Regions from separate parts of the Homo sapiens genome. Here region 2 is linked to region 1. Evidence: fine-mapped expression QTL. A gene starts in region 1. The other region holds a variant in brackets. All regions are shown on one strand. Distances are from middle to middle. Region 1 holds the start of IL34 (interleukin 34). Region 2 has its middle 33 kb from the start of IL34.

Region 1 (8,402 bases):
TCAAGGCAGGGACTGTGCCTTGGAGTGACACTGAGCCTCCCAGCCTGACACGGTGGGCACACAGCTGCCCTGGAAACCCTGTCCACAGATGATCTGCCTCTCCCCCAACTGGGCAGCCTTCCTCTGAGTGCAGCCCAAACATCATTGCTAAGGGCAAGTTTCTTTTTTTGCTGCCTCCACCCACCCAGAGAAACAGGTTAACAAACAGGGACCAGGCAGGGACAGCACAGCCCCAACCTCAAGGCCACTGTCCCCCACATGCTCTGCACACCAGGAACCCCACAGCCAGTGCCACCCCTGACCTTGGTCAGGAGACCCACCCTGCCCTTGTCTTAGCCCAGAGGTAAGAACCCACAACACAGGCTGGGCACGGAGGCTCACACCTGTAATCCCAGCACTTTGGAAGGCCGAGGTGGGCGGATCACCTGAGGTCAGGAGTTCAAGACCAGTCTGGCCAACATGGTGAAACCCCATCGCTACTAAAAATACAAAAATTAGCCAGGCGCAGTGGCAGGTGCCTGTAGTCCCAGCTACTCGGGAGGCTGAGACACAAGAATCATCTGAACCCAAGAGGCAGAGGATGCAGTGAGCTGAGATCGTGCCGCAGCACTCCAGCCTGGGTGACAGAGTGAGACTCCGTCTCAAAAAATAAAAATAAAAATAAAATAATAAAACAACCTGCAAGACAGAGAGGAGGCTTAAGAAAGATCTGTGTGAGTACGGTACTCCCTTCCTGGTTCCCTGGCCCTGGGTTGACCCTATGTGCAGTGACAAGTGAGGCTTGTCACCCCCAGCCCCGGGGACCAAATCTGAACCTGTGCAGTGGGTTAAATAGCATCTCCTCCAAATCCACATTCACCCGAACCCGAGTGTGACCTTGTTTGGAAATGGGGTCTTTGTGAAGTAGGAGGTAGGACCGACTCCAGAGGCAGAGCCCTGACACTGGACCAAACTGAGGACTAGTGAAAACAGGGGTGGACGGGGCAGAAGCAGCATTCCAAAAGACATGCTCAGCAGTGTGCCATGTCAGTTTACCATTGCCATGGCAACGCCTGGGAGTTACCACCGCTTTCCATAGCAATGACCCAATGTCCCAAAAGTTACTACCCCTTCCCTAGAAATGTCTGCATAAACTGCCCCTTAATCTGCATGCAATTAAAGGTGGGTATAAATATGACTGCAAAAGGCCCCGAGCTGCTCCTCAGTACGCTTCCTCTGGCACAGCCCTGCTCTGCAGGAGCTGGCACAGAGCTATAACATCTCTTCAGTAAAGCTGTTTTCTTCTACCACCAGCTTGCCTTGAATTCTCTCCTAGGGAAAGCCAAGAACCCTCGCAGGCTAAGCCCCCTTGGGGGCTCGCCTGTCCTGTGCCACTTACAGGCATTATTAAATGAAGGATGTCAAGATTAGGCCATCCTGGATTTAGGCAGTTCCCTAAATCCAGTGACTAGTGTCCTAGGAAGAAGAGGAGAGGACATAGAGACACACAAAGGGAAAGGCCACGCAAAGACAAAGGGAGATCTGAGTGACTAGGCCACAAGCCAAGGAAGCCAGGAGCCACCAGGAGCTGGAAGAGGCAAGGGAGGCTCCTTCTCGGCACCTTTAGAGGGAACGCAGCCCTGCAGGCACCCTGATCTCACACTTCCGGTCTCCAGAACTGTGAGACGACACATTCCTGTTGCTCTAAGCCACCCGAAGCTTTCTAATTGGTTATGGCAGCCCAACTTCCTCAGCACCCCAGCCCCTGGGCACCAGCCCCCACCTCAATCTGCTGCTCTCCCTCTCCCTCATCCCCCAGCCAGTCTTTGCCTGGTCCTAAGACCCACCCCTCCTGGAGCTTTTTCCCCTCTCCCTTGCTTTTCTTTCTCTCTTTTTCTTTTCTCCTTTTTTTTTTTTTTTTTTTTTTTAAAGACAGGGTCTCACCCTGTTGCCCAGGCTGCAGTGCAGTGATGCGATCCTTGCTACTGCAGCCTCAACCTCCTGGGCTCAAGTGATCCTCCCACCTCAGCCTCCTGAGTAGCTGGGATTACAGATGTATGCCACCACACCTGGCTAATTTTCCTTTTTTTAGAGATGGAGTCTCGCTATGCTGCCCAGCCTGGTTTCAAACTCCTGGCCTCAAGCCGTCCTCCTGCCTTGGCCTCCCACAGTGCTGGGATCACGGGCGTGAGCCACCAGCCCAGCATCCCTTGCCTTTCATTCGCACCTCCACCTCCAGAATGACCCTCATTCCCTCCTGCACAGACGGTGACAGCAGTAACTCCTACAAACACCACCAGACTGATCTTCAAGAGCAGAGGAACTCCCAATCACGATTCCACCCCCGCCGGGCTCTCAAATCCTCCAGGGCTGCCTGCTATGGGGAGGGAGGCACACTTTGCTTGGCTCTCAAGGCCTCAGCCAGCCGGGTCCAAACCAGCTCCCAGCCTGGCCTCACCATCCCACCGCCAAACCTTTGCTCACACTGGCCCCTCTTCCTGGAACATGGGCCTCATGACCCCAGGTCTACCTGTGTGACCACCACCCCACCTTCTAGACCATTTCCAGTAGCCCCTCCCCCATGCTGCACCCCTGCTTCTCATGACCTAGGGGTTTCCAGAACATTGGGTCCAGCTGGGTCCTTCCACCCATCCTTAATGTCCCAACCCTTTGTTGTATATTTCCACAAGGGCCAGGGTGGACCCAACTCTTCTTTCAATCCCTCGCAGGCTCATACCCCAAACCTCCAACAGTTCCTGAGCACTCAACCCTGTGCCAGGCGTTGGAGACAGAGGCACGAGACAGCAAGGTCCTTGTTGTCATGGCAGTGACTCTGCAGTGGGCACGTGGGAGGCACCGGAAAAATGTGTTGAATTTGAGTCAATTGAACTGGATCTTGGAGACTGAGGGGATCTTGGTCTGGCCTCCCAGCCAGCAGGCATAAGAGGCTTCCAGATCCTTTTTTTCCTTTCTGTCCTCATTTCAACTTATTTTTCTTTTTACCAACAGTGTTATCTTTCTGCTTTTTAATTCTGTTCTGTTATGGAGGGAGGGTTGGAGGGGAACAGGCTGCCTTCTCCAGGCATCTGGCTGCTCTTCTGCCGTGGGTCTTGGGTCCCTAGACACTTTCACCAGCCCCTGCCCCCCTCCACCGGCCATACCCAGGACTGGGCCGCTGCTGCCCGCCCGGGGCTCCCCAACACCCACAAGCCTGGAAAGGTGAGATGCTGCCACCTACCCCCAGTGCCTGCCCCGACCTAAGACCACCCTGAGGACCATGCCCACCCAGCCAGAACTGCCCACCCAGCTTGCCCGTCGGAGCCCGAAGTGAGCGGCAGACAGGGCAGACGGCGGCCGTGGGAATCTCAGAGGGTGTCTGCAGTCCGGCTGGGAAGCATCGCAACTTCTCACCAGCAAGAATGCCCTGGTTGCTATGGTTACGGCAGATCCTGGATCTAGGCCAAGGCCTCCCAATGCAGGTCCCTAGGGACCCCCCAGTACTCACAGCGCAGCCAGGTGAAGCCCCGGGGCATGGTGGTGTTCCTCGTCCCCCTGAGAGCTCAGGCGCCGTCCCCAGCAGTGTGTCCACAGAGGCCTAAGCACGGCCTACATGGCCTCGGGGCAGCAGAGGTGGTCACTCAGTCAGGGAAGGGCTGGCCCTGGAGGAGTGGCTGGGCTGCGGGAGTGAGCAGGTGCCCCAAGGGCAGCAGCTGCCCTTATCTGCCCGGCAGCGTGGAGGACAGCCGGGGGGCGGTGGCCGCAAGTCCCATGGCAGCCCAGAAGCAGGTCTGAGCCGGTGGCTTGGGGGTCTTTCGGGGTCTTCCTTTCCAAGGAGCAGGAGGAGAGAGTCCCTGGCAGGCCCCTCGGAATCTGGGGCTGGGTGACGCTTTCTCTGATTTCTCCGACTGCAGCTGCTCAGTGTGAAATCTGGCTCTAGGAAGAGAAAGGAGGAGAGAAACTGATTATGTAAGAGCAGCGCTGCCACTCAGCCATCAGCCACAGCGCACACCGCACCCACGGCCTGCACAGGACCACCCGGCCCTGGCAGCTGGACACGGCTCACGTGAGAAATGACTTCAGGATGTCCGAACGGCCCTGGCCCATGAGTGAGTTATGATGACACCAGCTGGCAGCCTGGGGCCTGAACAAAAGCAGGACCAAGGAATGAACAGGTGGTTTGAGTTCACACATCGAGAGCCATGGTAGAGTCCATGAATGACTCAGGCTAAAGGACAGGTTAAAAAAGCAGACGAGCTCCCACTCCGAAAACAAGCCGGACGCAATGGCTCATGCTTGTAATCCCAGCACTTTGGGAGGCCAAGGTGGGAGGATTGCGTGAGCCCAGGAGTTCGAGACCAGCCTGGTCAGCATAGTAAGACCTCAGTTCTATTAATAAAAAAAAAATTAAGAAAAAAAAAATTTTTTTGAGACGGAGTCTCAGACTCTGTCATCCAGGCTGTAGTGCAGTGGCGTGATTTTGGCTCACTGCAGCCTCCACCTCCAGGGTTCAAGCAATTCTCCTGCTTCAGCCTCCCAAGTAGCTGGGATTACAGATGTGCACTACCATGCCTGGCTAATTTTTGTATTTTTAGTAGAGATGGGGTTTCACCATGTTGGCCAGGCTAGTCTCAAACTCCTGGACTCAAGTGATCTGCTGTCTTGGCCTCCCAAAGTGCTGGGATTACAGGCGTGAGCCACCGCACCCGGCCAGGACTAAGGTCTTTACATTCACTGAATCTCTCACAACAATCTCATGGAAGTGCAAAATCTCAGTTTATCAATGAGGAAACTGAGGCCCAGAAAGGTTAAGACACTTGTCCAAGGTCATACGGCTTGTAAGAAGTGTGACAGGAATTCAAACCCTGTGGGCTGGTGGCTGCTCCCAAAATTCGACAACCACACAGGGCTCAGCGTGTGTGCGTGGTCCTCCCATCTGCCCCTCTGGACTCTGCAAGGTCTGGACCATTGTGTCTGCTCTGCAGATCAGGCTGGAATTCCGTCTCTGATTTAGTTCTCTTCCATCCCCTCGCCTCCTCCCTGTCTCCCCTCTGGTGGGGGAAAATGGCTACAGAGTGACACCATCGGGGGAGAGCAGGTATGACTTGGGCATCTTCTTCATTGTGTGATCCATGGTGTCACCAAAGAATGCTGGCCCTTACCCTAAGAGGTGCCCAGCAGGCAGGCAGGGCCTTATAGAGAGAACACGGGTTGTTCAAGTTAATCCCTTATGCAGTCACCCTGAATCTCAGCCCCAGTCGCTGCCTGCTGCTGCTCCTCTTTTCCTTGTCCTTCCTCCTTTTCCTCCTTCCTCTTCCTCCTTCTCTTCCTCCTCCTCCTTCCTCGTCTTCCTCCTTCCTCCCTCTTCTTCCTCCTCTTTCCCCCTCCTCCTTCCTACTCTTCCCTCTTCCTTTCTCCTTCCTTCTCTTCCTCCTTCCTCGTCCTCCTTCCTTTTTCCTTCTCCTCCTTCCTCCTCTTCCTCTTCTTCCTCCTTCCTCCTACTCCCTTTCTCTTCCTCCTTCCTCCTCCTCTTCCTCCTTCCTCCTCTTCCTCCTTCCTCCTCCTTCTCCTCCCTCCTCTTCCTCCTTCCTCTTCCACCTCCTTCCTCTTCCTACTTCCTCCTCTTCCTCCTCTTCCCTCCTTCCTCTTCCTCCTTCCTCCTCCCTTCCTCCTTTTCATTCCTCCTCCCTCCTCCTTTTCCTCCCTCCTCCCTCCTCCTTTTCCTCCCTCCTCCCTCCTCCTCTTCCTCTTCCCCCTCCCCCTCCTCCTCCCCCTCCTCCTCCTCCTCACCCTGGCAATTCCCCTGCTGTTACAGCATCACTACAAACACTAACGTATCTAGAACATTTAGTTGTCATTAGTTTGGGGATTTTTTTCAGGTTTATTGAGGGCTAATTTACATATACTACATTTTACCCTTTTCAGTATACATTTCTAAAAGTTTTTAGCACATTTATAGAGCTGTGTAATTACTATAATAATCAAGATACAAAACATTTCCATCTACCCAAAAAATTCATTCCTTTATAGTGGAAGTTGTCTAAACAAACTGAAACAAGGTAGAATAGTATAACAGACCCCCATATAGCAGTTACTCAGATTCAAAAATTGTCAATCTGGCTGGGTGCAGTGTCTCACACCTGTAATCCCAGCACTTTGGGAGGCCGAGGCGGGTGAATCAGTTGAGGCAGAATAAACTCCAAGGAGAAGGGGAAAAAACAACTTCAAATACCAATAGAAAAACAAAAAAGTTATTTCCACAGAGTTGTCCATAAAAGGTCAGGACTTTGAGACCAGCCTGGCCAACATGGTGAAACCCTGTCTCTACTAAAAATACAAAAATTAGCCAGGTGTGGTGGTGCATGCCTGTAATCCCAGCTACTCAGGAGGCTGAGGCAGCAGAATCACTGGAACCCAGGAGGCGGAGGTTGCAGTGAGCCAAGATTGCTCCACTGCCCTCCAGTCGGGGCAACAGAGCGAGATTCTGTCTCAAAACAAAAGAAAAAAATGATCACTCTTCTGTCATTCCAGCTTCACTCATCCCCCAATTTTTTTTTCCAGGAATATTTTAAAGCAAATCTCAAACATGCCATTTCACCAGCATGTAGGGATTTTTAAAATATATAATCACAATATTGTCATCACACAACCCTCAAATTAATAACTCTTTAATATGATTTCATATAGAATCCACGTTCAATTTTCCCTGGTTATTTTTTAAATCTCTGATGTGCATCTTAAGTCTTTTTTCTTTTTAAAAATCAATATATAATTTGCATGCCATAAAATTTACCATTTTAAAGTGTACAGGCTGCGTGTGATGGCTCACACTTGTAATCCCAGCACCTTGGGAGGCCAAGGCCGGGGGATCGCTTCAGCCCAGGGCTTTGAGACCAGCCCGGGCAACATAGTGAGAACCCGTATCTACCAACAAAAATTTTTTTAATTAGGTGGGTGTAGTGGCACGGGCCTGTGGTCCCAGCTACTTGGGAGGCTGAGATGGGAGGATCACTTGAGCCAGGGAGGTCAAGGCTGCAGTGAACCATGATCACGCCACTGCACTCCAGCATGGGTGACAAAGCAAGACCCTGTCTCAAAATAAATAAATAAAGTGTGCAACAGCCAGGTGCAGTGGCTCACTCCTGTCATCCCTGCAGTTTGGGAGGCCAAGGCAGGTGGATCACCTGAGGTCAGGGATTCGAGACCAGCCTGGCCAATATGGCAAAACCCTATCTCTACTAAACATACAAAAGATTAGCCAGGCACGGTGGTGCGCACCTGTAATCCCAGCTACTCAGGAGGCTGAGGCAGGAGAATCACTTGAACCCGGGAGGCAGAGGTTGCAGTGAGCCGAGGTAGTCCCACTGCACTCCAGCCTGGGTGACAGAGTGAGATCCGTCTCAAAAATAAATAAAAATAAATAAAAATAAATAATAAAGTGTACAACTTTGTGGGTTTTTAGTGTACTAAGTTGTGCAACAGTCACCATTATTTAATTACAGAACATTTTCATCACCCCCAAAATAAACTCTGAACTCATTAGCAGTCACCCCCTATTCCCTCTTCCTCCCAGCCCCTGGCAGCCACTAATATTCTTTCTGTCTCTATGGATTTGCCTATTCTGGACATTTCATATAAATGGGATTGATTATGCAATACGGGACCTTTCATGTCTGGCTTCTTTCACTTAGCATGTTTTCAGGGTTCATTCATTTTGTAGCATGTTATGAACTGAATGTTTGTGTCTCTCCAAAATACATGTGTTGAAGTTGTAACCCCTAATGTGGTGGTTCCTGGAGATGAGGCCTTGGGAGATAATTAGGTTTGGATGAGGTCACAAGGATGGGGTCCTTATGGTGGGATAATGCCTTTATAAGAAAAGAAATCAGGCCGGGCTCAGTGGCTCACGCCTGTAATCCCAGCACTTTGGGAGCCCAAGGCGGGAGGATCACAAGGTAAGGAGTTCAAGACAAGCCTGACCAACATGGTGAAACACCGTCTCCACTAAAAATACAAAAATTAGGCGGGCGCAGTGGCAGGTGCCTGTAATCCCAGCTACTCAGGAGGCTGAGGCAGGAGAATCGCTTGAACTCAGAGGGCAAAGTTTGCAGTGAGCCGAGATCATGCCACTGCACTCCAGCCTGGGTAACAGAGTGAGACTCCGTCTCAAAAAAAAAAAAAAAAAAAAAGACATCAGAGTACGCTCACTCTCTCTGTCTCTGTCTTTGTCTCTCTCTCTCTCTGTCTCTTCCCATACTCACACAAAGAACTGGTCATGTGAGTACATAGTGAGAAGGTGGCCATCTGCAACCCAAGGGAAGAGCCCTCACCGGAAATCAATCATGCTGGTGCCCTGATCTCAAAGTTCCAGCCCAGAGAATGGTGAGAAAACAGATTTCTGTTGTTTAAGCCACCCGGTCTATGGT
Region 2 (8,261 bases), 32 kb after region 1:
GGCTATGCTATAGTACAAGCCACTAGCCCGCCTCCTAGAACCTCTCATTTCCTTTCCATTGTGGAAATCTATCCTCAAGGAAATAACTTCTCAGTGTTCCATCTGCTATTCTACTACTCCTCAGGGATTATTCAGGCCCCCTCCCTTCTCTACACATCAAGCTGGAGGATTTGCCCCACCCAGGACTGGCAAATTAGCTTTACTCAACATGCCCTGAGTCAGATAACTAAAATACCTCTTAGTCTAGGTAGATACTTTCACTGGATAGGTAGAGGCCTTTCCTACAGGGTCTGAGAAGGCCACCGCAGTCATTTCTTCCCTTCTGTCAGACATAATTCCTCAGTTTAGCCTTCCCACCTCTATACAGTCTGATAACAGACGAGCCTTTATTAGTCAAATCAGCCAAGCAGTTTTTCAGGCTCTTAGTATTCAGTGAAACCTTTATATCCCTTACGGTCCTCCGTCTTCAAGAAAAGTAGAATGGACTAAAGGTCTTTTAAAAACACACCTCACCAAGCTCAGCCACCAACTTAAAAAGGACTGGACAATACTTTTACCACTTTCCCTTCTCAGAATTCAGGCCTGTCTTCGGAATGCTACAGGGGGTACAGCCCATTTAAGCTCCTGTATAGACGCTCCTTTTTATTAGGCCCCAGTCTCATTCCAGACACCAGACCAACTTAGACTGTGCCCCAAAAAAACTTGTCATCCCTACTATCTTCTGTCTAGTCATACTCCTATTCTCCGTTCTCAACTACTCATACATGCCCTGCTCTTGTTTACACTGCCGGTTTACACAGTTTCTCCAAGCCATCACAGCTGATATCTCCTCGTGCTATCCCCAAACTGCCACTCTTAACTCTTGAAGTAAATAAATAATCTTTGCTGGCAGGACTATACTGAATCTCCTTAGGCACTCTCTAATCAGATGTCCTAGGTCTTCCCAATTCTTAGACCTTTTATACCGGTTTTTCTCCTTCTCTTATTCCATTTAGTTTTTCAATTCATACAAAATCATATCCAGGCCATCACCAATAATTCTACACAACAAATGTTTCTTCTAACAACCCCACAATATCACCCCTTACCACAAAATCTTCCTTCAGCTTAATCTCTCCCACTCTAGGTTCCCACGCCACCCCTAATCCTGCTTGAAGCAACCCTGAGAAACATCGCCCACTCTCTCTCCATACCACCCCCCAAAAATTTTCGCCGCCCCAGGACTTCAACACTATTTTGATTTTTCTTATTAATATAAGGCGGCAGGAATGTCAGGCCTCTGAGCCCAAGCCAAGCCATCGCATCCCCTGTGACTTGCACGTATACATCCAGATGGCCTGAAGTAACTGAAGATCCACAAAAGAAGTAAAAATAGCCTTAACTGATGACATTCCACCATTGTGATTTGTTCCTGCCCCACCTAACTGATCAATGTACTTTGTAATCTCCCCCACCCTTAAGCAGGTTGTTTGTAATTCTCCCCACCCTTGAGAATGTACTGTGTGAGATCCACCCCTGCCCGCAAAACATTGCTCTTAACTTCACCGCCTATCCCAAAACCTATAAGAACTAATGATAATCCAGCACGCTTTGCTGACTCTCTTTTCGGACTCAGCCCGCCTGCACCCAGGTGAAATAAACAGACATGTTGCTCACAAAAAAATAAATAAATAAAATAAGCAAAACAATATGAGTAAGACGGTCATAGAAAAATACATAGGCCTTAAACACATTATAAATTAAAATTTTTTCATAACAAATTTAAATTAAGACTACATTGAGTCACTGTTTTTCACCTATCAGATTGGTAAAAATCCAATGATATAAATCCAATTTAATGTGTTGGCAATGATGCGGGCAAACTAATTTTTCATCCAAAGCTGATGGAAGTGCAAATTGGTATTAACCTTATGGAGTGGAAATTGGCAATATCTCTCAAATCACAAATGCAGATACTTAGCAATGCCGTTTCTGGGAATTTATCCTGCATATACAGTATGCACCTGCAACAGGCCACGTGTATGAGATTTTTCATCTCATCAGCGTCTGTGATAGCAGATGGTATAACCTGCATGTTCACCACACAGTAGTATAGCATGATAGATTCAGTAAAACAAGCAAGACACTGAATGGTGTGTTTTCTATGTTGGAAGCTGTGTTCAGCAGAGGTGGCAAAGCTTTTATCTATAAATATCTGTGGAAGGAGTTTGAGGGGGGACGGATTTTTTTATTGAGACAGGATCTCAATCTGTCACCCACGCTGGAGTGCAGTGGTGCCATCTCAGCTTGCCACAACCTCCACTGCCTGGGCTCAAGAGATCCTCCCACCTCAGTCTTCCGAGTAGCTGAGACCACGGGTGTGCACCACCACACTCAGCTAATTTTTTGTATTTTTGGTAGAGATGGGATTTCACTGTGTTGCCCAGGCTGGTTTCAAACTCCTAAGCTCAAGTGATTTGCCCCACCTCAGACTCCCAAAGTGCTGAGATTACAGGCACGTGCCACTGCGCCTGGCACTTTCATCTACCTATATCTATATCTATATATTTGTATATGCTTGCATTTGCATAAAGTGAACATATTAGAATAATTCACACTAAAGCGTGAAAGATTGGCAACTCAGACACCTTTCAGAGACAGTGTATCTTTATTTTATTTATTTATTTATTTATTTATTTTGAGACGGAGTCTTGCTCTGTTGCCAGGCTGGAGTGCAGTGGCGCAATCTCGGCTTACTGCAACCTCCACCTCCCAGGTTCAAGCAATTCTCCTGCCTCAACCTCCTGAGTAGCTGGGACTACAGGTGAGCACCACCACGCCCAGCTAATTTTTGTACTTTTAGTAGAGACGGGGTTTCACCATGTTAGCCAGAATGGTTTCGATCTCTTGACCTCTTGATCCACCCACCTCGGCCTCCCAAAGTGCTGGGATTACAGGCGTGAGCCACCACACCTGGCCAGTGTATCTTTAAAAGAAGATGTTTGTTAACCCAAATAAGTCTAGAATTCGATGGACTTTTTGTCAGGGTAGTAAAATAAGTTGCAAAAATGCATACACCGTAAGTCCAGAGATTTGGGGGGTAACAGGGGAGCCATAGATCAGGAGTTTCTGTTTTCCTGAGGATCAGCTCTAATTAGATTAGACCCAATAAAATATAAACAGTTACCCGGTGAGGCCGGTTATGGGACAGGAGCAGGAAGAAAACTCTTTGCTATAGTTCTATTTTACATGATGTTGAAACCGTATGAGTTTATTCTCTAATCAAAATACTAAGCAGTAAAACAGAGGAGTTGCAGTTCATCAGCTCCTGAGCCTTGGGCAAGACCTACAAGATCTACCCCAGCTCCTGTTCCAACAGAGCCTCTGTCATTTATAATCAAGGAACAAATATTTACAAGAAGTTTTATCACCTGTAACAGCTCACTGACACTTGCCAGAAATGCTTTATGTGAATATTGCTATTGCAAGACACTGTGAGACACAAAGAGTGTAGGCAATTCACATAACTTCCCTTAAAACCCAGTTATCTCTTAGGCAGAGCAAAGATAAGGACAAACAACATCATGAAATTGCTGTGAAAGGCAAGTGTGTGCACATTTCTGAAAGCAGCACAAAAACAAAACAGGTTCCGTGTTCAGCAGCTGCACCACAGCTAAACCTCGGCTCCCATCACTGTTGAATCTGAGCTTCCATGCTTCTCAAACCTCAGCGGGCTTAAGAACCACCTGGAGAGGCTGTTAAAAAACACAGGCTCCAGGCCCCTCCCTCAGACATACAATTCAGTAGGTCAGGGGCCCATGAACTTGCATTTCCAGCATGCTTTGTCTCTCGGATGACACTGATGGGGTGGTGCAAGGACCACATTTGAGGAGTCTGCTCCAAAGAAGGGTTCCTCAAACTGTGCCATACAGACACATTACCTGGAATCTTGTTAAAATATAGACTCACTCAGAAAGTCTGGGGTAGGGCCTGGGATACTGCACTTCTTTTTTTTTTTTTTTGAGACAGGGTTTTGCTCCATTGCCCAGGCTGGAGTGCAGGGGCATGATCACAGCTCACAACAGCCTCAGACTCCTGGGTTCAAGCAGTCCTCCCACCTCAGCCTCCTGAGTAGCTGGGGCTACAGGCGTGCACCACCACGCCTGGATAATTTTTTTTTTTAAGAGACAAAGCCTTGTTGTATTGCCCAGGCTGGTCTCAAACTCCTGGCCTCAAGCAATCCTCCTGCCTCAGCCTCCCAGAGCACTGGGATTACAGGGGTGAGCCACCGTGCCTGGCTGGACTCTGCATTTCTTTCTTTTTTTTTTTCCTGAGACAGAGTCTCACTCTGTCACCCAGGCTGGAGTACAGTGGCGCAACCTCAGCTCACTGCAACCTCCACCTCCCAGGATCAAGCAATCCTCCTGCCTCAGCTTCCCAAGTAGCTGGGACTACAGGTGCACGCCACCATGCCTGGCTAATTTTTGTATTTTTAGTAGAGATAGGGTTTCACTGTGCTGGCCAGGCTGGTTTTGAGCTCCTGACCTCTGGTGATCCACCCACCGCAGCCTCCCAAAGTGTTGGGATTACAGGTGTGAGCCACCACTCCTGGCTGGACTCTGCATTTCTGACAAGCTCCCAGGTGCTGCAGATACCACTGGTCTGCAGACCACACTTTGAGTACCAAGGTTCCGGAATAGCCAACTCCAGTTGTTTCACAGATGAGGAAACTGCGCCTTGGAAAAGGTAAGTGACTTGCCAAGGGCACTTGTACAGTAAGGGTGGAGACCAGGTGAGGCCCCATCCAGTGTGGCCGCCATGCCTCAGGAAACCGCCCCGCTCCAACCCCATGTCCCCAGTCTACGCTACAAGCCTGCCTGAGCCAAGAAGGGATGCCAGCCCTTCAGAACATGGCATGGAAATTTACTAAATCATGCACAGTCCTTCACTCTCCGGAGAAATAAACCACTTACCAGGGAGATTAGTTCAAACCACCAGCCTCTGCAAAAATACACTTCTCACAAAATTATTTTTTCAGTTGCGTCACCTTCACTTCCAGTGACACCCCTTCGACCGGCCCTGCTGTGGGAACCTGAAGAAGACGACATGCATTTCTCAACAGATGTGGTCTGAGGC[C/G]GGGCACAGTGGCTCAGGCCTGTAATCCCAGCACTTTGGGAGGCCAAGGCAGGCAGATCATTTGAGGTCAGGAGTTCGAGACCAGCCTGGCCAACACAGTGAAGCCCCGCCTCTACTAAACATATAAAAATTAGCTGGGCGTGGTGATCCCAGCTACTTGGGAGGCTGAGGCAGGAGAATCGCTTTAACCGGGGAGGCAGAGGTTGCAGTGAGTTGAGATTGTACCACTGGACTCCACCCTGGGCAATAGAGTGAGACTCTGTCTCAAAACAAACAAAAAACATGTGTTCTAATTGGGAGAAGCAGAAATGGGGGTGGGGAAGCTGATCTTGGGGAAGCTGAGGAATCCCTCCTGAGCCCCAAAGGCTCCAGATTTACACTGTGTGCGTTTTTCCAACTCACTTTATACCTGTCAAAAAGTCCCTTCAATTAGAGATTGATGTGGGTTAACAAGCACTTTCTTTTCAGGATGCATTGCTTCTGGGAGGGTTCTGAGCTGACAATCTTTCACACTTTAGTGTGAATCATTCTAATACAGAGGTAAAGGGAGCAGAATTCAGGAAACTAAAGTCTCTGGAGTAATTACGGCAGAGTGGGCCTTACCTGAGATCCAGAGCTTCATCTGGGAGCACAGCCTTGGATGAACCACAGCTTGGGCCTTGGCCTCTGCACCGTATTCCAGCTTGGGCCTTGGCCTCTGCACCATACTCACCATTCACCAGCAGATCCCCCTAGCCCCCAGCCCCCAGCCCCCAGTGCTTTCAGGCTGTGAGTAGTTTGTGGGCCTGGCTCTGCCAATAACTTGCTATGTGACTTGAGGAAATCACACAGCTTTAGAGACTCTTAAAGCTGGAAGGAAAAGCCCCCAGGGGTCAGCTGGTTCCATGATCCCAGAACCCCGATTTCTAGACTACAGAACACACAGCCCCTATCGGCCTGTTGGAGGCTGGCTCTCCTGGAAGCAGAGCCTGAGACAGGCTTTGGGCTTCACATGATTAATGAAGGGAGGGAACCTCAAGACAGAAGGCTATCTTTTATTTTTACACAGGGTCTCACTGTATTGCCCAGGCTGGAGTGCAGAGGTGCAATCATGGCTCACTGCATCCTTGACCTCCTGGGCTCAGGCAATCCTCCAATCTCAAGCAATCCTCCTGCTCCTCCCGAAGAGCTGGGACCACAGGTGTTTGTCACCACATCCAGCTATTTATTTATTTATTTATTTATTTAAGACAGAGTCTTGCTCTGTCACCCAGGCTGCAGTGCAGTGGTGTGATCTCGGCTCACTGCAACCTCTGCCTCTTGGGTTCCAGCGATTCTCCTGTCTCAGCCTCCGGAGTAGCTGGGATTACAGGTGCCTGCCACCATGCCCAGCTAATTTTTGTATTTTTAGTAGAAACGGGGTTTCACCATGTTGGTCAGGCTGGTAACTTTTTTAAATTTTGTGTAGATATGGGGTCTTACCATGTTGCCCCAGGCTAGTCTCAAACCCCTGAGCTCAAGCGATCCACCTGCCTCAGCCTCCCAAAGAGCTGGGATTACAGGTGTGAGCCACTGCACCCAGCCCGAAGGCTGTTTTTAAATAGCACCACAGTGTTGTTCTATTTGAGGCAAAGAGGTCAGGCTTTTGCACCCCTAATTCAGTCAGTGGCCCCCCTGCAGGTGTAGAATGGTATAAACTCCCAGGTATCTCCAGCAAGGTGGCGGGGAGAAGGACACAAATCTGCCGTACCTGGCAGCCCCTCCCCCTTCACAGCAACTAGGAAGTGGATACAAGAGCGAGTTCAGGCAATCTGGGGGCACCAACCCTTCCTTCCAGTTCCAAGAGCCTCTCACATGTGTTTCAAAATACAAAGCCCCTGAGCACAGGAGTTCGAGACCAGCCTGGGCAACATGGAGAAACCCATCTCTACTAAAAACAGAAAAATTAGACAGGCGTGGTGGTGCGCACCTGTAGTCTCGGCTACTCAGGAGGCTGAGGCGGGAGGACTGCCTGAACCAGGGACATGGAGGTTGCAGTGAGCTGAGATTGTGCCAGGCCACTGTGCTCCGGCCTGGGCCACAGAGCAAGACCCTGTCTCAAACAACAACAAAAAGAAGAAAGAAAGAAGAAGCCCCCAAAATCACAAAGGATGGAAGGGGGGGAAAGAACGCAAGCAGTTTTTTCATTTCCAGAAGAATCTTGGAATCTGCCCTCAGAATCAACCCTAACTGCTCTCCGTGGCTTCCCGGCAGGCTTGAGGGGGCCCCTCCTTCCTCCTCACCCTAGCTTCACCCACTGTCCCGCACCGACGGCTACTCCCTGAGGACTTTGCCTTATCTCTTCCTGGAATATTCCACAAGAGATTTCTCCCCAGCTGGTTTCTTCTTGTCAGCTCAAACATCACCTCCGTAGAGATGCCTTCTCTGGCCACCAGGCCACCCCTGTCACTCCCTCTGCGGCACTTTCCACACAGCACTGGCCACTCGACATTATCCTAACTGCATTCAGTTGTGTGTTGTGTGTCGTTCTCCCCACAGGAATGACCACAGGGTCTGGGGACAGAGCCTGGTTCTGGTGTCATCATTGTGTCCTCAGGGCCTGGCACCTGCTTGACACATAGGAAACTCTATAACTTCTGGCAAATCATAGCTGAGTGAATGAACTGGACACATGGGCCAGATGCCAAAATTCCAGCAGAGAAGGAGAACTGGGTCAACTGAACACTCGGCACTCCCAGACGCTGGAGGAAAACAGGCACAAGACTAGGATGGGGATGAAGGAGAGAATCCACCAAGAGTTTTCTTGGCCCTTTGATTCCTCCCTCCTCTCCCAGATCCCTCTCTCAGCTCCTACCTTGGAAAAACGTTCACTTTTTTTTTTTTTTTTCTGAGATAGAGTCTCGCTCTTTCGCCCAGGCTGGAGTGGAGTGGCGCAATCTTGGCTCACTGCAACCTCCACCTCCCAGGTTCAAGTGATTCTCCTGCCTCAGCCTCCAGAGTGGCTGGGATTACAGGCGCCCGCCACCACACCTGGCTAATTTTTGTATTTTTAGTAGAGACGGTTTCGCCGTGTTGGCCAGGCTGGTCTCAAACTCCAGACCTCAGGTGATCCACCTGCCTTGGCCTCCCAAAGTGCTGGGATTACAGGCATGAGCCACCACGTCCAG

What was found. PIP is the estimated chance that this variant, and not a neighbour inherited with it, causes the effect.
Region 2: its variant is fine-mapped to the expression of IL34 in whole blood (TOPMed, PIP 0.96).

The regions. Positions count from the first base shown.
Region 1 is chr16:70,642,058-70,650,459 of GRCh38, reverse strand. It overlaps IL34 (interleukin 34), which reads right to left and starts at 3,901. Exons shown (of 6, transcript NM_001393494.1): 1 at 3,485-3,901. The coding sequence starts at 3,512. RefSeq lists an enhancer at 169-669.
Region 2 is chr16:70,609,924-70,618,184 of GRCh38, reverse strand. It overlaps a transcript of IL34 not described here. Among named protein-coding and RNA genes, the nearest start is that of IL34, 33 kb to the left of the region's middle. The variant C/G (reference allele first, on the strand shown) is at 5,116.